Linked DNA regions of Homo sapiens: region 2 is linked to region 1. The links come from fine-mapping of genetic effects on gene expression. A gene starts in region 1. The other region holds a variant in brackets. All regions are shown on one strand. Distances are from middle to middle.

What was found.
Region 2: its variant is fine-mapped to the expression of PKD2 in whole blood (INTERVAL, PIP 0.96).

Annotation. Positions count from the first base shown.
Region 1 is chr4:87,996,336-88,012,485 of GRCh38, forward strand. It overlaps PKD2 (polycystin 2, transient receptor potential cation channel), which reads left to right and starts at 11,300. Exons shown (of 15, transcript NM_000297.4): 1 at 11,300-11,993. The coding sequence starts at 11,399. It also overlaps the pseudogene RNU1-36P. RefSeq lists silencers at 11,063-11,992, 12,043-12,182.
Region 2 is chr4:88,051,365-88,059,364 of GRCh38, forward strand. PKD2 (polycystin 2, transient receptor potential cation channel) reads left to right here. Exons shown (of 15, transcript NM_000297.4): 7 at 627-794; 8 at 4,722-4,903; 9 at 6,619-6,739. Among named protein-coding and RNA genes, the nearest start is that of PKD2, 48 kb to the left of the region's middle. The variant C/T (reference allele first, on the strand shown) is at 3,581.

The sequences.
Region 1 (16,150 bases):
CAGGCTGGTTTCAAAATCCTGACCTCAGGTGATCCACCCACCTTGGCCTCCCAAAGTTCTGGGATTACAGGCATGAGCCACCGCACCTGGCCTACACACACATTTTATGTTGACAAATTCTTTATTTACTGAGACATTAGAAAATTACATGTCAAAGAGTGCTTAAAGATATCCATTAATGGAATTTAACAGAGGCTATATAGCTTGCAAAATATGAAGGACAAAATAAAGAAAACGATACATAAAGTGAAAACTAAATCATTGAATAACAAGAACCTATTTTTCAAGAGAAACACTGAAATAACAGAATGATGAAAGAAATCAATTGTAACAACAAATATAAATAGACGAAGCCTCTCTGTTAAGACAAAGATTCACATGATGGAAAATAATAATAATAGATCCTACATCACTTATTGTTTCACTTTGCTTTAGGTGTTTTCCTTACAAATAAAGTAAAACATTTTTAAAGATTTGCAACATTACTGTTAAATAAGAAGTAAAATTTAGAAACAAATAACATGAAATGAAACAAAGAACTTATTCTACATTGTTAAAGATCCAATAAAGATATAACTATCATAAACCACTATGCAGCAAATAACAGACCAACAAAATATTATAAACCAAAAACTATTAGAACCACAATGAATAATCAATAAAAACATACAAATAGTGAAAATTTCAACTTATTACTTGGAATCACTTAGATTCGCTAAGAAAATTGGTGACATACTCAGCAGAATAGTTTCACAAGGAGTCATACAAGACAGACCAGCCTTTACTCTAGGCTAGTTTGGTCCTACTACGGAGGCATTGTCCTTCTGAGTATTCTCTTCAACACCTCATACAGTATAAGATTTCTTCAATTCAGATGACAAAAACTTGAGAAATTTCCCGGTCTATGTGAACATCAGGAATTTTTCCACCTGCTTCTTTCTGGTAGTTCTTTCCCTTGCCTCAGGTGGGTTCACCAAACGCATGATCTGAAAACTCAAGGGAAACTCTGTGGAGGTAGCTGGAGCTCTTTCTCTGCACAATACTCTTTTTTTTAGTTCTTTGTGAATTCTGTCCACTTTGACTTTCCCCAAATTCTCAATGAACTCTGTCTTCTCAATTGAGTGAGACTGATAGCTTGAAATCTCTTTCTAGGGAATCAGTAGAGAAACCATAGGGTTTACTTCCTTTTTTTATCTTCTTTGAAAAATTACTGTTTATACTGCCTGTTGTCCCATGTTTCAGAACCATCCTTTATAAATTTTGTCTGTATTTTGTTTAAGTAAGAGGGTAAATCTGTCCGTGTTGCTCCATCAGAGCCAGGAACAGAAATCCTTTAAAAATAATTTTAACTTTAAAAAAGAATGAAAAATATAAAATAAAATACATGACCATGGAAAAATGAAAAGTGAGCTGGCAGAATTCACAGGAGGAATTAAAGATTTTCAATAAATAATTAGGAAAAGAAAAGCCACCTTTAAAACCACAAAATCATGAATGGTACAATAATATGAAGGTCAAGATTTATAAAAATCCTATTAAAAATAAAAATAGAAAATGACAGAAAGAGAAATTAGAAAGGAGATAATACAGAAACATGACACAGTAGCTCAACATATGCGTAATAGGTATTGCTAAATTTACAGAATTAATGAAACAGCAGATTATTTGAAATTATAAAAGAAGAAAACCTTGTTAAAATAAGTAAAAATTTGAATTTGCTGATTAAACATGCACAATATCTCCTAGGTAAATAATTATGCTGAATAATCAACAGAAAGATGTATCTGAGAGCAGGATAACAATAACAATAGTAATAATAATAATTTCACTAAACAGACATAACTTTTGGGCCAAATAATAATCATAATAAAATACTCATCTACTCAGCCTGAGAGAAAAACAATGGGTTTAATCTGACCTCCTACTTTTCCCATAACAACATTTAATGGCAGAGGAAAGTGGAGGAATATTTAGAAAATCCTAAAGAGGAGGAGAAAAGATTAAACTGAAAAATATAATGCCCAATCCATTCGTTTTATGTCTATGGTAACAGAAAGGCCTTCTTAATTTTAAACAGTTTTGGGGAATAATGAAGCATTAATGGGTTGTTCTTTGAAAACAAACCAAAAAAAAAACACCTAATAAAAAATCTACTCCAGAAGGTTTAAATAAAGAGAAAAAAATTCAAGGAAGAAAAATTCATGTTAGTAAAGTACTGGTAGTAACTAACTATTGGGTACTATGCTCAGTACCTGGATGACATGATCTTTCATACCCCAAATCTCAGCATCACACAATATACCCAGGTAACAAACCTGCACATATACCTCTGAGTCTAAAATAAAAGTTGAAAAAAAGAGAGAAAACTAGCTTTATTTTTAATGGTTTGCTTTAATGTAACAGCGGTGTGTTAACTCAGTACAAACATTGAAGGTGATCAGAAAACTCATGAATTTTTATTATAGGAACTGTGGAATATTCTATATATATCTGAAACTTATAGTTACTTGTTTTAGGATATCCATAATAAAACTCTTTCATGTGGTTTTCTGGGTCATTGTTTTCAGGAATAAGCTTGGTGTATAATATTGAATGCTCTTAGAAGTTGGATCTGCATATTTTCTCTTTTATCTCTACAAATTAAACAATACTAGGAACTATCTTCTATAAAATATAAATTTAACAATATGTTAATGACTATCTATAAAGATAATATACTTTTAAAAAAGTACTGGTAGTGAACAATGAAAAATTAAAATATATAAAATAAGTTATATTTACTGTTGTACCACAAAATGAAAGTTTATAGACTTTGGCAAATGTAAAAGATATTTATTTTAAAAGGTGTTTGTTGGTAAAAAGTTTACATTTGCTAATATCCTTATCTTTAAGAAGAAAGGTCAAAGGCTACTGTATTAGTCCATTTTCACACTGCTATAAAGCTACTATCCAAGACTGGGTAATTTATAAAGGAAAAAGGTTTAATTGACTCACAGTTCTACATGGCTGGGGAGGCCTCAGGAAACTTACAATCATGGCGGAAGGAGAAGGGGAAGCAAGGACCTTCTTCACCTGGTGGCAGGAGAGAGAAGTGAGGATGCAGGAAAAACTGCCATTCATAAAACCATCAGATCTCATGAGAATTCACTCACTATCACGAGAACAGCATGGGGGAAACTGCCTTCATAATTCAATCACCTCCCTCCCTTGACATGTGGGGATTACAACTGGAGATAAGATTTGAGTGGAGACACAGAGCTAAACTATATCAGCTACTGAAAAAAGTTGATAAATTAAAAAAAAATTAAAAATAAAAATAAAAAAAAAAGTAGACAAGGCTTAATTTTGTTGATGAAACCTATGACAGACTTCTAGACCCACCTTACTTTCAAATTCTTGGGCACTTAAAATAATTACTTAAGTAATATAAAGTGTACAGAAGCCAACAGAGAATATGTTTCTTTGCCTTAGTCCTCCAGTCCTACCCTATGTATAACGTGCCCCCAGCATATACCCTTTGTATACATAGGACTGTTGTCTTACCACAGAAACTAAGAACTAGAATTGTTGGATCAAATGGAATGCACTTTTTAAATAGTAATATATGCTGCCCAACTATCTTCCGAAAAGCCTTCACTACATTATTATAATCTCACCAAAAGCACATAGATGAGAATACCTATTGCCTATATTTATTAACACTGAATGTTATTGATCTATTGAATAAAAAGTTATCTTAATATAAAATTTCAAAAAAAAAAAAAAAATTGAAGATAAGCCACAGACTGAAAGAAAATATTTGCAAAAGACCTATCTGATAAAGGATTGTGATTCAAAATATACAAAGAACCCTTAAAGTTCAACAAGAAAATAAGCCACCCGATTGAAAAATAGGCCCAAAAGACTTACCAGGCAGGGTAGATACCATGACCACAAGGGTAGTTTTCCCTAGGGCAAGGCTTCTCTATTCCACTGAAGACTTGCTGATCCCTGTGATTTCTCCAAATGTGGGAAACTCAACTGCGTAATTTGTGGTAGCAGCATACTGCATTCATGCTTTTCCCCAGTAAATAAAAGGAAAAAATGAGCCAACAACCTGAACAGACACCTTACCAAAGAAGATATACAGATGGCAACTGAGCATATGAAAAGATGCTCCACATATATGTCAATAAGGAATTGCAAATTAAAACAACGAGATCCAATTGCCCGCCCATTTGAATGGCCAAAATCCAAAACACTGATAATGCTACTGCTGTTGAGGATGTGGAAAAAGAACTCTTATTTATTGCTGATGGGAATGCTGTAAATAATATTACAAAGACATGTGTACCTGTATATTCATTGCAGCACTATTCATAATAGCAAAGACATAGAGTCAATCTAGGTGCCCATCAATGATGGATTGGATTTTTTAAAACATGGTACTATACACTATGAAATACTATGAAGCTATGAAAAAGAATAAAATCATGTCCTGTGCAGCAACATGGATGCAGCTGGAGGCCATTAACCTAAACAAATTAACATAGTAACTGAAAGCCAAATACCACATGTTCTCACTTATAAGTGGGAGCTAACCTTTGGGTGCCCATGGATAAAGATGGCAACAATAGACAGTGGGGAATACAAGAGGAGGGAGGGAGGGAAAGGGGCAAGGGTAAAGTTGAAATAATTTTTTTAATTTTTTAAAAGGATATTTTTTGGCTCATGGAGTCCAGGGGTGGATCTAGCTTCAATTAGTTCTAACTCAGGGGTTCAAATGATGTCCTGAGAACCTAGTCTTTCTCTGTCTCTTTGATCTACTCTCTTAAAATACAGATTCCTAGGACCTAGCTGAGACATAATGAATCAGAATCCCTAGAAGTTAGACTCCAGAATCTTTATTTAAAATAAAACAAAACAAAAAAAACTTCCCAGAAGAATGTCATAAAGCTCTTATTGGTTAAATGTTTTATCCATGTATAGCAAGCTAGTTACAAGCTTCTTGCAGGCATAAACAACTTCTTTAGCATCCTAATCATATCTAAGATTGTACGAAGGGGACATAAAACAGGTACTCTGCAAAGTCTGGTAGATCTGGGAATGCTGGAAGCCTCATTCATGTTGGCATCAAAAGGTATTTGAAAAAAAATTGTGATAAGCTTTGGAAAAATCTGGGCTAGTGAAAATTGGATTTAAAGTTTTTTTAAAATACAACTATACCCAAACAGTACTAGTGAATAAACTAGAGTTGATGAAGAGAAGAGCTGCACACAGTATTTCAAAGAACTCTGTTCTTGGCCCCAATTTGTTCAAAATTCTTTTGAACTTGGATAAAAATATAGATAATAAATATCATAATCTGCATCTGACAAAACCAGGAGATGGCACACAATAAAAATGTATTTCATAATGTTCTTGAATAGCATGGCCACCCAAACATTAGTTCAATTTTAGTATTCTTCCAGTATCCACATTATAAATATTTTTTGTATCTCCATTGTTGGCGCCATTTTTCCCCTGAGCATCAACATTTTGGCTGCCAGCTTGTCTGGACTTACATCTTTAAAACTCTAAATCTGGTGGGAAGAAAAGCTTTTCTTTTCCAACAACTGGAAAAAAATTTCTGGCCTAATTTTTTTTTTTAACACAACAGGATAACATACTTGTGAAATACCATTCACAGGGGCCAAGGAGACGTGATGCTGATTGGGCAAGCCTGAGCTCCACAATCACCACTTGGGAGCTAGCAGTGGTGTCTGCCACACCTGAGACACATATAGGCTAAGAATGGCAGCAGGGGTGGGTAGGTGGGGGTGTCCCCAAGAAAACTTGCACTAGAAAACAGACTGGCTGCTGAGCTGCTAATAAGCCAGGGTCCCTGCTCTCCAGGAGCTTATGTGCCACTCACGAAGACGTCTATGTGAACAGATATTTTCAGTATAAGGTGGCAAATGTTGGAATAAAGGTTTACAGGGTAGAGAGGCATGTCAATTCATGCTGGGGGCCAAGATTGTGTCTATGGAAGGTTCCAGGGAGAGATGAAGTCTGAGTCTAGAAAAATTCCTAAGTTTTTATGGGTAGAGAAGTTGAGAATGATCTATGGATGTTTCCAGGCAGTTTAACTATAAGATTTGATCTCATTGAAGGTAGGAATCATGTCTTATCTTTGTCACTCTGGAATGCAACACAGTGACTGGCATGTAGCGGACACTCAATACATGTTTTATAAACTTATTAATATTCCTTCATTAGTCCTCAACAAAAATTCTGTGGGGGATTTATAAGATGGGTATTTAACCTCATTATCCAGAGAAGGAAATTGAGATAGAGAGATTAGGTCATCAAGATCACGGTGCCAGCCAATTATGGTGCCAAGATAACCCCACAGAGACAGGGATGTATGCAGGCCAATCCAAACCAAATCTATCATGAAGAAGGCCACAAATCCTAGCTTTATGTTATTAAAGCAGCAAAATGACAAACAAAGTAAAGTCAAAGTCTTACTGTGGTTAGCAGTTCTTCTCATAAAGCCCAAAACACCAGATTTTCTTCTAATGATTTCAGATGTCAAGTGGTAAAAATTGATTTTACAATGTTCTTGAGTAAATAAGTACTGGGGAAAAAAATGAGGAGGAAACATGTTTGTTTGGGTAAATTGCTAAGCAACACCACACATGCCAGAAACTCCTTTTGGATTTCCTCTCGAGGTGGAGACCGCGAAACCAACGGGTACTTCACTTTGTGTCTGTTTCATCAGTTCACACTGGAAAATAAAAGCCAAACAGGCAATTCTAATAATACAAGAGTCAGAGGTGTGGAGGCCACTAATATTAAATTAGACTGAACTGTTTAAGGTTGCCTTTTAAAATGGCTCCTTCCAGCGTCCACGGTGGCACTAAGACTGAGGTGAGATTTGTGCAGCGTGTCCAGGAAGATCTAGCACACTGATGAAAAAAAAAACAAACAGCAGCCAGGCCATGTTATCTATCCCACTCGGTATTTCCAGATGCTACAGATGATGGAAATTTGTAATGTGACAACAGGATTGTGGAAATGAGATGAAAAAAACTTTGTGCACGTCACTTATTTAATAATGGAAAATTTCTTATTAGAAGTAAGGTCTTCAGATGGGTATTAAAGGAAGGAATTCCGTGGGTAGGGAGAGAAATTTACAGCCTCAGGGCCTGCTTGAGCAAAAGCTGGGCACTCTAAAGGGGAGAAACAAATTAACATAAAAGCACAAAAGGGAACCTTAGTAAGCCAGAAGGAATGAATAAGTATTTGAACAGGAAATATATTAGATGGCTGGTGTTGGGTTTATGAAAATTAAGATTGAAATTAATATTGAAACTCCAAAATGTAAGATTTAGGGTGCAATGGACCAAATGCTATTTAAGTGGTATTACACAAAAATTGCTGCGAATTTTTAATGATTACATTTCTTGCAATAATTTGTAAAGAAAATTTTGGGTAAGCACACATATAACTCTGAATTATGTATGTGCAGACACATTTCCAATCAATTTGAATTCTTTTAAGGGTGAGGATATAGTTTCAGGAAGATTTCAGATTTTGTTTTAAATAGGAACTGACACTCTAGAAAGAAAAAAAAAAGGCCTATTTATGTTATCATTAACTATAGAGAGTCTGTACTCCTTAACACACATCTGAGGCTTCCTATGATCTGGCCCTACCTACCTTCCCTACCCATGCCAGCCTGGGCAATCTCTCTTCTAAATCCCCTCAAACCCTGTAAAATATAAGCTCACCTCTATGAGAGCTAGGCTTTTCCCCTATTTAATGAATTGCCGTCTCTCCTAGTATTGTGCCTGGCATATAGTAGGTGTTTAGTAAGTATTTGTTATAGAAGCCTCTAGGATTGGCATGGAGCCCTCCAGAAACTCACAGCCTAGCTGGAACAAAGACATCCACAAAAGCAATTATAATAGATGAAAATAGTTATCATAATTAAGATATAAGAGCTAAGACCACTTCTAACACTAACAAAGACATCCACAAAAGCAATTATCATAGATGAAAACAGTTATCATAATTAAGATATAAGAGCAAAGACTACTTCTAACACTATTAGCACGTACATGTCAGACGGTGTTCCACATGCTATGGTCTGGGTGTTTGTGTTCCCCCCCCATAATTCATACATTGAAATCCTAACCTTCAAAGTGATGGTATAAGGAGCTGGGGCCTCTGAGAGGTGATTACATCATGGGGCTGGAGCCCTCACAAATGGGATTAGTGCCCTTAGAGAAGCAGCTCAAGGGAGCTCTTTTGCCCCTTCTACCATAAGACACAGCTAGGAGGTGCAGTCTATGAACCAGAAAGTAGACCCTCACCAGACCACAAATCTGCTGGCAGCATGATCTTGGACCGTCCAGCTTCCAGAACTGTAAGAAATAAAGGTTCATCGTTTATAAGCCACCCACTACATGATATTTTTTATAGCAGCCCGAATGGACTAAAACACATGTATTAATTCACCTAATCCTCACAACAACCCTATGAGGTAGGCATTATCATTATCCTCATCTTTGGTGGTACAAGGAGATAAAGTGACTTTCCCAAGGTCACACAGCTAGGAAGTAGTGAGTAAATCAGAATCCAGGCAGTCTGGCTCCAGGGTCCTTACAACGAATTAGTGACTGCAGGCACAAGCATAGAGTAACCTGACTCAAAGACCACTGAATTTTCTTCTAAGTCTGGGATTCCAGATGATTGTCTCACTAGTGCTAACAGTGAAGTATAGAAATGTGGGGGAAATATTTATGAAACCTCTTCCATTTGGAACACATTGGTGCTTCTCAAACTTTGGATGCCTGAGAATCCCCTGTGAAGATTCAGAATTTCAGGACTGGAATCCGGAAGATTTTGAGTCAATAAGGTTGGAATGTGGACCCAGTATCTATATTTTTAGCAAGAGCTGCAAGTGATGCTGGAGATCTTCTGATCACAATTTGAAAACATTGTACTAGGCCTATTCTCCAGAGGACCCTTTGGCTCAGATTCTGCATTCTCTTTCCAGGCCTGGCTCTCCTCTGTTGGAATGTGTCTGTAAGAATCCTTCGACTCTGCAGTGCTGCTGGTGCTATTCAGGACATCTTCAGCTTCAGAAGTTCCTTGGATGACAGGCACCATAACCCTTAACCCACTTGGTAATCTCTCATTTTTGGTCTGTCTCCTCTTGAGGGCCAAGGCTGTATCATACTCCTCTCTACATGCCCAGACCTTAATTCAGGGCACAGGAAATGTCTTCAGAATGAACTGATGAATAGCATGAGCTAGGGCTGTGCTCCAGACCCACCAGTCTTGCCTTTGAGAAGCTCACAGTTAAGAGAAGAACATGAATATCTAAATTAATAAACTGCAGGATCAGGTAATAGGTAGCCATAATTACCTAAATATTAGCAGCATGTTATATGTGCCTAGAGAACAAATGAATAATTCATTAAGGTGGATGGATGGCATGGGATGCCATGCTAGAGGAGTACATTAAGAGCTGTTAAAGCTAAATTGTGTCCCCCCAAAAATTTCTGTGTTGAAGTCCTAACCCCCATTACCTCAGAACATGACCATACTTGGAGACAGGGTCTTTACAGAAGTAATGAAGTGAAAACAAGGTCATGAGGGTAGGCCCTAATCCAATATGATGTATAAGAATAGACAATTAGGACACAGACGCATACAGAGGGAAGAGGGAAGACGGCGTGAGGACACAAAAGCGGGGCCATCTGCAAGCCAAGGAGAGAGGCCTCAGAAGAAACCAACTCTGCCAACACCTCGTGAGAAAATACAATTTTTCTTTTCTTTTTCCTTCCTTCCTTCTTTTTTTCTTTCTTCTCTCTCTCTCTTTCTTTCTTTATGAGACAGAGTCTCACTCTGTCACTTGGAGTGCAGTGGCCCGATCTTGGCTCACTACATCCTCTGCCTCCCGGGCTCAAGCGATCCTCCCACCTCAGCGTCCCTAATAGCTGGGACCAAAGGCACACACCGCAAAGCCTGGCTAATTTTTGTATTTTTTGTAGAGACAAGGTGAGCAAATAAATTTCTGTTAAGCCACCCAGTCTCTGGTACTTTGTTATGGCAGCCCTAACAAACAAATACAGGAGCAGATTATGAGAATTTACTAAACCAAACCACAGAAATTAAATTTTATCCTTTCAGCTGCCAGAAGCCCACAGAGGTGTCTAAGCATCAACGTGACAAATAAGCAGCTTTGGTTCTGCAATATAACCTGGAAATAGTGAGGACACCGACGTGGAGAATAGAGATGGGAGTTGACAGGGATCAATTGTTCTAATGCGGAATAATGCAAGACATAAGATCAAGCCAGCAGGAGTGAGAAACAGAGATCATATCAGGGTGATATCTGTGGGGCAAAAGTAACAAGAAGATAAGGTGTAGGCGGTGGAGGGTAAACCGCGAGGCTTCCATGAAGAAGAGTGGCCTGGGAAGTGAGGAGGACAGCGAAGCCCCAAACCTCACCTTGGGATACGGGAAGTGAAGCAGGTTCCAGAGAAGGGGACAAGATAATGACTTAGGGTAGGATAAATTTCAGACAATTGCAGAGCATCACATTAGATGTGTTCAGAAGAGTGGAAATAAAGTTCTGTGCCTAGGCCCTCATGCAGGATTCTGTTGCTAGAAGTCAGTGCTGGCCGCAGGGAGACCGGAGATCACAGTGGAGGCACCAGCGATCCGAGAGTCCTATGACGAATCCCTGGGATCCCCACAATGTGTGGAGACAGAAGCCAACCAAAGAGCGAGAAAGCATCTCCAAACCAGCAGAATCAGGGGCAGGAGGCCCGCCAAATGCACAGCAAGTCAGCCTTGGTAGTTTGCAAATGGAAAGATTTCTTTGACCCGCTGGAGACTTCAGCTCAGGCTGGATGTCGCTAATTCACACCATCTCACCAAAAGGTTCTTTCCCTGCCCTTTGGTGAATCGAGGCAGAAGTGGCTGGTGGATAACTGGGACCCAAGAGTTATCTCAGCGTCGGGCAGGCATCGACAGCTCCAGGAGCCCTTTCCCTGCAGGCGGGCTGGCGGGTGAGCGATTCCCTCCCTTCCCAGGCCTTCCCGGGAATGGAACGTGGGCGCCCGCGCCCGGGCTCCGGTTCCACTTGGAACGCGGACTCGGGAGCCGCCGGGCGAGCGCGCAGACCGCGGGGGCGGCTCCCTCGCACCTCCCCGCTCAGCGCGCCGCGGCGGATGGGCGAGGCGGGGCGAGGCCAGAGGGAGGCGGGCCAAAGGGGCGGGCGAGAGGACGCGGGACCGCGGGGAGGTCGGGGGCGGGGAGCAGGCGGCGGCGGGCGCCGGGAAGAAAGGAACATGGCTCCTGAGGCGCACAGCGCCGAGCGCGGCGCCGCGCACCCGCGCGCCGGACGCCAGTGACCGCGATGGTGAACTCCAGTCGCGTGCAGCCTCAGCAGCCCGGGGACGCCAAGCGGCCGCCCGCGCCCCGCGCGCCGGACCCGGGCCGGCTGATGGCTGGCTGCGCGGCCGTGGGCGCCAGCCTCGCCGCCCCGGGCGGCCTCTGCGAGCAGCGGGGCCTGGAGATCGAGATGCAGCGCATCCGGCAGGCGGCCGCGCGGGACCCCCCGGCCGGAGCCGCGGCCTCCCCTTCTCCTCCGCTCTCGTCGTGCTCCCGGCAGGCGTGGAGCCGCGATAACCCCGGCTTCGAGGCCGAGGAGGAGGAGGAGGAGGTGGAAGGGGAAGAAGGCGGAATGGTGGTGGAGATGGACGTAGAGTGGCGCCCGGGCAGCCGGAGGTCGGCCGCCTCCTCGGCCGTGAGCTCCGTGGGCGCGCGGAGCCGGGGGCTTGGGGGCTACCACGGCGCGGGCCACCCGAGCGGGAGGCGGCGCCGGCGAGAGGACCAGGGCCCGCCGTGCCCCAGCCCAGTCGGCGGCGGGGACCCGCTGCATCGCCACCTCCCCCTGGAAGGGCAGCCGCCCCGAGTGGCCTGGGCGGAGAGGCTGGTTCGCGGGCTGCGAGGTAAGAGCGCGCGACCCGCAGCGGCAGATGCACGAACCAGAACGGCCGGCGCCGGCCGGGGCCATCGCCCGCTGCGGCAGCTCCCCGGGCTCCATCTCGCATCCCCTCTGCGTTCCGCCTCCCTTGGAAGCGCATTCCCCACCTCCGCTAGTGCTGCCCTATTTCCGGTACCCAGCGCGGAATTCCACTGCTCTTTTGTTGGTGCATATTTATTGGATACCTCCTTCTTCAGGATATGTCACCATAGTCTTTTTTACTGAAAATTAGTGAAAGCCTAATTAGAGTGAAAGAGTACATCTGGGTTTTGTTTTTTTTTTTCTTGTAGAGGAAAAAATGAACATTACTTGTGTAACTGATGGTAGTTGCAACTGCATATTTGCCAATGTCACAAAATCTAAAGGAAAATGTTATAGTCACCCGTGGTTTCCTTCTTGCCTGGACACTCCATTGTCCCGGGCTGAAAAGGGTAGCAGTACAGTGCATATAATGTCAAGTTGTGGGAGGAGTGTGGCAGATTGTCATTGGTGCATTTTTTTGGTGATGTGTGTGGTTGTTTTGAGGAGTGGGAGCTGTTAAGAACACCACAAATAGAATAAAATAATATCGTGAAGTTATTTGGCCGTTTCTAATTCTAGACATTTTTCTAAAAACAGTTGCAAAGGAAAGATTACATTGTTTTAAAAAAATTTGAAGTATGTTTTTAAATAACTAAATTAATGTTCTTTGAAATTCCACCAAAATGATGAAGTCACCAGATAGCAGCTGATAAATGTGTCTGAGCCCAGTGCGCCCAGCTCTACAAAAGGCAGAAGAGGAATTTTCAAATTTGCCAGTGCCCAGTAAGAGGACATGAATTTTCTAGTACCAGAGGAAATTCTCTTTTTACAAATTTTGTCAGAGGTATCCTTGGGAAAGTATTTCATTTGCTTTTACCCTCCAAATTATTTTAATCTATATTTTTAAGAGTTTCCATTCTCAGTTGAGTTTTTCTTGTTCTTCTCCTTCTGTCAGTTTTGAAAGTCTTGCACAAAAACAATCCAGGTGTTGTTACAGCAGTGTGATTAAAACCAGGTCAGGCCTACACTGAAATCCCAGTTCCACCACTCATTAGCTGTACGACCTTGAGCAAGTTACTTATCCTCTCTGATACCCAATTTTTGGATTTTTTTTTTTTTTAAAGAGATGATCATAACGCTTAGGACTTGACTCTTTGGGAGAATTAAGTGAGTTAAGACATAAAATGTGCAGCATGTATTTGTCATGTTATTAGCGCTTCAGAAATATAAATGTAAACATTTTGGTACTTCGTTTATGGAGATTCTTATACTAGTTAATTTTATTAAAAGCATGATGGGGAACAGAAGATCCTTTTCGGATAACCTGTGTGAGTAAATTAATAAAACACTAACACTTTTTAAGATTCAAAACTGGATTAATTATGTTATTTTACACCATTTAAAATGTGCATTTAAAAAATATTCACTGAAGTGAGAGAGAAGTTCCTTTTAAGTTAATAAATAATGGTAAGTTGCATGATCCTTTTAACTCAGTTTAAGCATTTGATAACACCCCTAACCTTGTTTGAATAAACTCAATAACAGAATATAGAGAAATAAAATATATATTTCATATGAGTATGTATGTAAATTTATTTCTTTTAAAGGAAAATTTCAGGAAACAAAATGAATAAGCTCATAGTCATAAAACCTCTAGCCAAAGTGTGTCAATGGTCTGATTTGTAGGAGAGCAGACTCAGGAATCGGGAATTTTTTTTTTTTTTTTAAGAGTCGGGGTTTCACTCTGTCACTGAGGCTGGAGTGCGGGGAAGCAAACGTAGCTCACTGCGGCCTCAAACTCCTGGGCTCAAGCTGCCCTCCCACCTCAGCTTCCCAAGTAGTTGGGATTACAGGTGCAAGCTGCTGCTCCTAGCTGAAAAGTTTTAATTATATAAAATGTTTAAATAAATTGTTATTCCTTTCTTTTATGAAGAAATATAATTGATATTCTTGTCACTTATTAAATAAGCAACATTTTAAAATGTTTAGCACCTACTGTGAAGATAGCACTGTGCTAGCTGCTATGAATAAACTAGAATAGCATATCACTGTTTTCCTATGGACAAAAACCCAGAAATGTAAAATAAATAGCCATGAATGGGTTGAGATTCCCCCTGCCCCCTTTGGATACTGATGACAGAAATCTTATATGCACTATGTAAGCAGTGCCCTAGGATCAGAACAGAAAGTAACTTGCAATTTTTAAAGGTGGGAGAAATGACTGAAGTTTGGAGTGGTCAGGAGTTTCCCTGGAAGTCTCTTGCCTTTGTGACTTTGTATAGCTCCCTCAAACTACCTGAGCCTGAGCTCCTCATTTATAAAATGGAAGAATTGAACCTAGCTTCCAAGGTCCTTTCTAGCTTCACCATGCTCTGGTCTGTTGTTTAATGACATGAATCCAAGATGGACAACAAATGGTCGATTTTGCTCCTTCTACAGTAAATAGATCTATCTTCTTAGCAGAAGTAAAATAGTAAAGAAAGAAGACATGTTTGAGGCCTGTTGAGGCCTGTTTGCTGTATGCATTGTATCTAATCAAGGAATTGAGAATGTAGCCCTAAATATTAGGAAGGAGTTGAAAGTTTCTGAGCAGGAACAGAACATGCTGAAAGGAAATTGTGTCAGCAGCATGGTGTACAGGAGAGCTTGGCAGAGAGAAAGGAGGCAAGAAGACCTGTGGGAGGCAGCCAGTAAGGAGGTGAAGAGGGCCTGGACCAAAGGAAGCCAAGGATGACCGAAAGATTTAAAGATGAAGCCCAGATTTAAAAGTATCCTCAAGTATTTGTTTATTCTTTTCTTAGCAAATTCTTTTTAGTACAAAGATAAAATATGGCACTCTGAGTCATAAAATTTTCTGAATTTCAGAAGTTGAATGTTTTTCTGAATGTATCAACCTGTTAAAGTCAGTTCCTGTTTGTTATTTTAGGCGTATATTCTTGGGCTTTTTTTTTTTTTTCCTAGAGAAACTATGAAGTACTAGCTGTGCAAGTCAGGGTGGGCTAAGCTGCTAAAACAGATACCTCCCTCCCCTTCAATACCCTGAAGAACAAGAAGTTAATTTTTTGCTCGTGTAACATTTTAGAGAGGGTATTCCAGGTTGAATACCTGGAATAATGAATGAAATAATAAGTCGACTCTTATTTCTCCTAAAATAATTGGATCTTGACATTGAAATTGGTGTGCTGATTGTATTTAATAAGTGACCTCCAATGCAGTTATTTCATTTTGCCATACTTTATGTAATTTTTATTTTTTCTGCCTTCCCTTTCGATGTCTAAAGGGAAGCATAATTAGTTATTGGAAAGGTTATTGAGACTTAAAAAAAGATTTGAACATGGCTTTGGTTGATGCTACCACACAGAAACTGCAAACATCCAACTCACCGCTCTTAGTTGCTGTTCATGATAGTCTATGCACAGTGACTGATGAATTTAGCCTGTCTTGAGGCTTCAGAACTTAGTCTTATGTCATCACGAGCAGAGCTTTATCCTAAATTACAGGTTTTCAATGGGGGGGGGGGGGAGGGGCAGTTTTGCCCCTCAGGGGACATTTGGCAATCTCTGGAGACATTTTTGATTGTCATACCTGGGGGGATGCCCCTGGCATCTCCTGGGTTGAGGTTAAGGATGCTGCTAATCTACAATGCACAGTACAGCCACCCCACACACACACACTACAAAGCATTCTCCCACCCAAATTGCCAGGAGTGAGGACTTTGAGAAACCCTGCCCTAGACTGTTAAATTCAAAAGGAAATAATGGTTTATTGCTCACAGTGTGCCAGGCACTGTGTTAAACTCCTTATATTCATAGTTTTGTTTTTATCCTCACAACAACCTGTGAAGAAAGAACTCTCATCCGTCACCACTTTACTGTTGAGGGCACTAAGCCTTCTAAAGGTTAAATGACTTGCCCAGGGCCGCAACTATTAGATGTTGCAGTCAGGATTTAATTCCAGGCACTTTGTGTTCAAAGTGTTTCTCATCCACTGTGCTATATGCCAGTAGTGCCCAAACCTAACTTTAGCCAGCAATTGTCTGCATCTCTTCAGTTTATGAACATTTATTTATTAGGACATGCAGGATAATCATACCAACACAGT
Region 2 (8,000 bases), 51 kb after region 1:
CTTTAGTAGTTTTTTGTATTATTTAACTTCATGTGTTTATCTGCTCTTGAGTCTCGAGGGCAGGATTTATGCAGTTTACTTCTGTTTATTCCTCTTAGCCCTTGCACAGTGCTGTATACATAGACATCTACTATATTTTTGTTAAACAGAGCAAAGAATGGCTGGCAATTGGAGAATGCAGAGAAACCGAAAAATTTTAAATTTAAAAATCACAAATAAAAACAGCAGGATGAAGGCAAGAAAGCAAAAGGGTGGAAAGTGATTAAAATGAAGGTGGCAGAAAAAACAGAAAGCATTCCTCTTTGAGTTTGAGTCTGTTATAGTGTGATCTCTTCTGTGTATGCATGTATGTGTGTGTAATGTATATGTGCACACACATGCATGCATGCCTTCGTTGAGTTTCTATTCCGAACTAAGGAAATGCAAGCAATATACTGTTTTACTTATTTTATGGCAGGGCTTAACACTTTCCATTTGAGTGAGTGACTTTTAAGAATGACATCGGGTAAGTATAATGGTGAGCCCTTATAATTAATACATTGGTGAAGAAAAATATACTAGTCATATTAAGGTAAGTTTCATATTTCTAAAACACTGTAATAAAATATAAATATTTTGCTTTTCAGCTGTCAGTGGTAGCTATAGGAATTAACATATACAGAACATCAAATGTGGAGGTGCTACTACAGTTTCTGGAAGATCAAAATACTTTCCCCAACTTTGAGCATCTGGCATATTGGCAGATACAGTTCAACAATATAGCTGCTGTCACAGTATTTTTTGTCTGGATTAAGGTAATTTATAAATTTCATGTTCTACATTTTAAATAATATTTTCTTTAAAAAAAATGAGTTCCACAAAATCATGGAATACTTGAATTTGAAATTCAAGTGACCAGCCAAAGCTGCTCAATATTTACTTTGAGACAGGGTCTCACTCTGTCACCCAGGCTGGAGTGCAGTGGTATGATTACAGCTCATTGCAGCCTCGACTTCCCAGGCCCAAGCGATCCTCCCACCTTATCCTCCGAAGTCACTGGGACTACAGGCATGTGCCACCATACCCGGCTAATTTTTAAATTTTTTCGTAGAGACAAGGTCTCATTATGTTGCCCAGGCTGGTTTTGAACTCCTGGGTTCAAGCAATCCTCCCACCTCAGCCTCCCAAAGTGCTGGGATTACAGGCATGAGCCACCGTGCCAGGCCTCATATTTTACATATAAAGTAAACTATTGAGACTCATGTGATCATTCCTCTCACTGTCAATGACATACTTCTGCTATCTGAATTAGTGCAAGATCAGTCCCTATAGGTTTTGTTTAACAAATGCAGTAAGAGGCCTTTCAGTGTGTTAGCTGGGCCTGGGGCCCCAGGCTGCTAACAGATGAGATGAACAGGTGAAGGAAAAGGAACTTAGAGAAAGAGAGGGAAGGAGCAGGTGGAGGGAAGGGGAGAGTTGCTGCACTTGGAAATGCTTGCTAGAAGGGATCGCCTCTTTTCCAGGTAGAGGCTGTAAGGGAAGCTTTACCTAGAATTAAGGTTGGAACAGACACTGCTTCCAAATAGTTCCTTGCTCACTATTTTCCTTATTGTCCCAAGATATAATGTGCATTTCCATGTGTGTGAAAGGTTATGACATTTCATATACAACAAGCCTCAATTCTGGAGATGCAGGAAATTTCAATAATTCTCAGGCAGCAGCTGCCATTCGGTCACCAGCACAGGCTCTGATTGTGCTGTCCAGACAGTAAGTACTAGCCACATGTGCCTATTTAAATTCAAATTTAAATTAGTTAAGCTTAAATACAATTAAAAACGCAGTTCCTTGGTCCTACTGGCCACACATTAAGTGTTCAATGGCTACTGTCTAGGACAGTGGAAATGTAGAACATTTCCATCATCACAGAACGTTCTCTTGAAAAGCACTGTTCTGGAAGGTACTTACCCGTTATGTACTTTTCTGAGTTGGTATTCATACCTAGAAGACCTGAGGTTTATCACAAGACATAGACTTGGACCAGGCGCAGTGGCTCATGCCTGTAATTCCAGCATTTTGGGAGGCCGAGATAGGTCCCCTGAGCCCAGGAGTCTGATACCAGCCTGGGCAACATGGCAAAACCTCATCTCTACTAAAAATACAAAAATTAGCTGGGGGTGGTGGCACGTGCCTGTAGTCCTAGCTACTTAGGAGGCTTAGGCGGGAGGATTGCTTGAATCCAGAAGGCGGAGGGTGCAGTGAGCCAAGATCGCACCGCTGCACTCCAGCCTGGGCAACAGAGTGAGACCCTGTCTCAAAAAAAAAAAAAAAATGCATAGACTTTATCCTGTATTTCTCATGCTATTTATTTATTGACATGCTTGTTCAAGAGAAACCATCACTAAAGCACAAAACCTTGATCATAACATAGTAATAATAATCAAACAGCAAAAATAATAATAGTAATAAGAATGTTCTGTGGTGATGGAAATGTTCTATATTTTCATTGTCCTAGACAGTAGCCACTAACCATGTATAGGCATGGAACACTTAACATGTGGCTAGTAGGACCAAGGGACTGAATTTTTAATTGTATTTAATCTTACTTAATTTAAATTTGAATTTAGATATCCACACATGTTTGGATAGCACAGTCAGAGCCTGTGCTGGTGAAAGGATGGCAGGTGCTGCCTGAGAATTACTGAAGTTTCCTTGATTATTATTAGTTTAATAATAATAATCAAGATAGTAATAATAATCAAGATAGTAATAATAATCAAGATCTCAGCTGGGCACAGTGGCTCACGCACTTTGGGAGGCTGAGGCGGGCAGATCACCTGACGTCGGGTTTGAGACCAGCCTGGCCAACATGGTGAAACCCTGTCCCTACTAAAAATACAAAAAAAAAAAATTAGCTGGGTGTGGTGGCACGTGCCTATGATCCCAGCTACTTGGGAATCTGAGGCAGGAGAATTGCTTGAACCCAGGAAGCAGAGGTTGCGGTGAGCTGAATCATGCCACTGCACTCCAGCCTGGGCAACAGAGCAGCACTTCGTCTCAAAAAAAAAAAAAAAAGATCTCAAATGAATTGGGATTGTATTAAGTAATGATTAAGTAATGTGATTACAGCAATCCTCAAGAAATATTTCACTGTGGCCAGTAACAATGTGTAACAGACCTTTAAACTTCTAGAGATTTTCCTACAACATGTGTCTCAGGCTGATGTGTTTTATTTAGTGCTTCTCTTGGAAATGTCTTGCCCCTCGATACTTTATCATTAAGGTCTTTAAGGCAGGGATCATGACTCTACTTTTTTTTTTTTTTTTTTTTTTGGGACGGAGTCTTGCTCTGTCGCCCAGGCTGGAGTGCAGTGGCACAATCTTAGCTCACTGCAACCTCCGTCTCCTGGGTTCACGCCATTCTCCTGCCTCAGCCTCCCGAGTAGCTGGGACTACAGGCGGCTGCCACCACGCCCGGCTAATTTTTTATATTTTTAGTAGAGACGGGGTTTCACCGTGTTAGCCAGGATGGTCTCGATCTCCTGACCTCGTGATCCACCCACCTCGGCCTCCCAAAGTGCTGGGATTACAGGCTTGAGCCACCA[C/T]GCCCGGCCTCATGACTCTACTTCTAATATCTCATCATGTGCTCTTCCACTGAGGCTTCTACTTAGAGCTACACAATCTGGGCAGCCATCCTCAGTGCCTTATCTACCAACATGCTCAATATGGCTTTGCAGGGTTCACTGTCTACCAGCAGGGTTCACTATCTACCAACATGCTCAATATTTCTTTGCAGTCAGGCAGAGCAGGCTTTGCAGTTCAGGCAGGGCAGCTGGCTGCAGGCCCCAGCTGACTCCTGGGGATAGAATGCCAATATTTCAGACATTGCAGAGATTTGAGGCAATGTACATAAAGCCCTCCACATATAACTGATGCACAATAAATGACAGTTAATATTATGCAACAAGAATTTCCTGGGGGGTTTTATAATTAATTTTTATTTGTGTGAAGTTTTTTCCCTCCCTTTTACTTTAATCCTTTTTGGGGGGAAAGCATCACTAGTCACAGTTCACGGCAGCCTCGACCTCCCAGGCTCAAGCAACCCTCCCACCTCAGCCTCCTGAGTAGCTGAAACCACAGGTGTGTGCCACCACACCTGACTAATTTATTTTTATTTTCTAATGAAACAGAATCTTGCCATATTGCCCAGGCTGATCTTAAACTCATGGGCTCAAGCGATCCTCCTGCCTCAGTCTTCCAAAGTGCCGGGATTATAGATGTGAGCCACTGCACTCAGCCTTTTTTTTTTTTTTTTTAATTGTAGATAGCATAAAACCTACTGTTTTAACCATGCTTAAGTGTACAATTCAGTGGCATTAAGTACATTCACAGTGTTGTGCAGCCATCGCCATTATGCTGCATTATTTTCAGAACTTTTTCATTATTCTAAACTGAAACTTTGTATCCATTGAACACTAACTCCCAATTCCCCCAGTCCCTGGTAACCTCCATTCTACTTTCTGTCACTGTGAGTTTGACTATTCTAAGTACCTAATTTAAGTGGAATCATACAGTATTTGTCCTTTTGTGTCAGGCTTATTTCACTTTGCATGATGTTTTCAAGGTTCATCCATGTTGTAACCTGTCAGAATTTAATTTCTTTTCAGGATGAAATAATGTTTTATTATATACAGTCACACCATTTTGTTTATCCATTCATCTATTGATGTCTTCTCTCTCTTACAGCTCTTCAAATTCATCAATTTTAACAGGACCATGAGCCAGCTCTCGACAACCATGTCTCGATGTGCCAAAGACCTGTTTGGCTTTGCTATTATGTTCTTCATTATTTTCCTAGCGTATGCTCAGTTGGCATACCTTGTCTTTGGCACTCAGGTCGATGACTTCAGTACTTTCCAAGAGTGTATGTAAGTATATATGAAATTAAGAAGAAAAATTTAATCAGAGTTGTCACTGCTTCTCAAGAATAAATCTTCATATGAGGTTGCTATATGACCACCAATTATTTAAAACCAGTTATTTTAAGTAAGAATTAATTACCTTTTCCCAAAACATTGATCTACCCATGCAAAGAAGACAATGCATCCTGAAATGCTGATGCTTAAGATAGCAGCCCAAAGTAGTAAAATACAGTTAACAGACATAGGAAACCAACACTGTTCTGAAGACTGAGTTTTTCTTTGCACCAAATGCAGATGGTAGCTTCTAGAAGGCTGTTTGCCTATATTCTTACTCCTGTTGAATATTGTTGCCATATATTTAGAACTTCAAGTTATTTTCTAAGGAAAAAAACAAGATATTTCTAATATTCTAAGGTAAACTCAGACCAGTACAAGAATTTTCAGTTTTTTTTTCCAAAGATCCCAAATGTGAAATAAAACAACAAAAAGCAGCCAGTGTCAGATTTCTATGCCATTTAGAAAGGAGTTAGTTTAAAAAGGAATGGAAGTAATAGGGTTTTGTGCATAGATATCTCGAATTAATATTGCTGTTGATAAAAGTGATTTTGCTAAGACCCAGCACTGACAACACTTGGCCACTTTGATCCCATTTTAAGTACTTGTCAGAATATTGGATCTTTGAACTCAAACCATTTTGGGTTTTTGGGGTTTTTTTGTTTTGTTTTTTTTTGTTTTGTTTTGTTTTTGAGGCACGGTCTTGCTCTGTTGCCCAGGCTGGAGTGCAGTGGTGCAATCATAGCTCACTGCAGCCTTGAACTCCTAGGCTCAAGCAATCCTGCTGCCTCAGCCTGCTGAGTAGCTGGGACTACAAGTGTATGCCACCATGCCTGGCCAATTTTTAACTTTTTTTATGAGAAGGGATCTCACTGTGTAGCCCAGGGTGGTATTGAACTCCAGGGCCTCACACTGTCCTCTCACCTCAGCTTCCAAAAGTACTGGGATTACAGGCATGAGCCACCACACCAGGCCCTGTTGTTTTTTTTTTAAAGAAATTTTTAACTTTAGACCGAGGGTGACTGTTGTCAAGGTTTAGGGTTAAGATGTTTTACCTAGATTATGTGTTGAAATGTTATAGCCAATTGCTTTATAAGTTATTGAATAATAATTGTATTTTCTTTTTTTTTTTTTTTTTGAGATGGAGTCTCGTTCCATCGCCCAAGCTAGAGTGCAGCGGTGTAATCTCAGCTCACTGCAACCTCTGCCTCCCGGGTTCAAGCGATTCTCCTGCCTCAGCCTCCCGAATAGCTGAGATTATGGGCGCACGCCACCAAGCCCAGCTAATTTTTGTATTTTTAGTAGAGACGGGGTTTCACTATATTGGCCAGGCTGTTCTCGAACTCCTGACCTCGTGATCCGCCCGCCTCGGCCTCCCAAAGTGCTGGGATTACAGACGTGATCCACCGTGCCCAGCTTGTGTTTTCTTTTTAACCAAATGGAAATAACCTCTGTAGCATGAAAGCATTTTATTATTATTGCAGAAGGCTTTAATTGCTGATACAAGTAGCAAGACTTTGTAAATGGGATTGACAATTTTCTGTTATTCGGCAGCTACCTATACTGCTAAAAGGTCCAAAAATAATGAAATCATCTTTAAGAAATGTTGCATCAACTAGTGGACATTCTTTGTTTTTGTATTGTGGTGTTTTGTTTTATTTTTATAGCTTCACTCAATTCCGTATCATTTTGGGCGATATCAACTTTGCAGAGATTGAGGAAGCTAATCGAGTTTTGGGACCAATTTATTTCACTACATTTGTGTTCTTTATGTTCTTCATTCTTTTGGTATGTACATTTTTATTTATAGTGAGGTTCAATTTAAACTTCGTAAATCCTTGTCTTCTCTTTTCTCTCACACTTTATGTCCTATCAATTTTAAATAAAGACCCAGGAAGTAGAAAAAAGTGTGGATGTTGGAAAACTTATTTTCCTTTTATTAATTCACAGTTTTGAGACTCATATCAAATGTCTTTTCTGTGGTCTTTCATTGATCCATGTATATGTGTCTATTCAATGCAAAAAAAATTAGATCTCTTCCATGGTCTTTCATTTCTCTCTCTATATATGTATCTATTCCATGCAAAAAAGAAATTAGATCAAGTACAAATTTATAAAGATACCTAAAATAGTGCTTTGCCTAAAAAGTAGAATATGCTTACATGCTTTTTAAACTCATATGTCAGCACTTTCGTAGTCACTTGCTAGCATGACTTTTCTCTCTTTCTTCTTTTCTTTTTAAAAAATAAGAACGGAAAAGCAAGCTAGATCTAAGATGTCGAGTAATAGTTGAGTGAATCATTGCATGTCAAAATTAGGATATTCTGTTTTAAATTATTTATATCCCATTCATCTAGAGACTGCCTACAGAGAATATTCAAATAATTAAGTTTAAAACTAAATGTAACAATGAATGGAAATTGCATTAAAATTATTTTCAAAAATAATTTTTTTATTCTCTTGATTTGGTACAAATGAACATTTTTAATGTTTTTGCCCTAAGTCAATTAAGTTTTTTTAAGGTGTTTTGTTCTTTTTCTTAACATTTATATATTCAATTGTCTACTGAGAAGGTGTTAAGCCAGCTTAATTTAGGCAATATTTTTCATCTAAACACTAACAGTCATCTTAAGAACAATTTTCTTAAGAAAATAACATTTTTTCCATTTCAGTAAATTGTGTAAAGATCCCTTGAGGAAGGTTAAGTGATCACATTTTCAGTAATTCAGTGTAATAACTCTAAAGTCAGTCCAGGTATTACTGGTTAAGTATATGGTATTTATTGATTGGGTATTAGATGTACTGTATTAATTTCCTGTTTAAAAAAAATTTTTTTTCCGGGGAGACACAGCCTCTGGTGTAAAACAAAGGTGTGTTCCCTAGCTGTACTTTAACAGGACTGAAAAGGTCAGGAATATCATTCAAGTTCATATGTATCTTGCTGTATGCATGGTTTATGGCTCATTTTTAAACTTACACCTCTTAAGCTTCTTCTTCCTATCATATATTAAAACAATGGAGAGAAGAATAAGCCTCTGTTACTCTACCA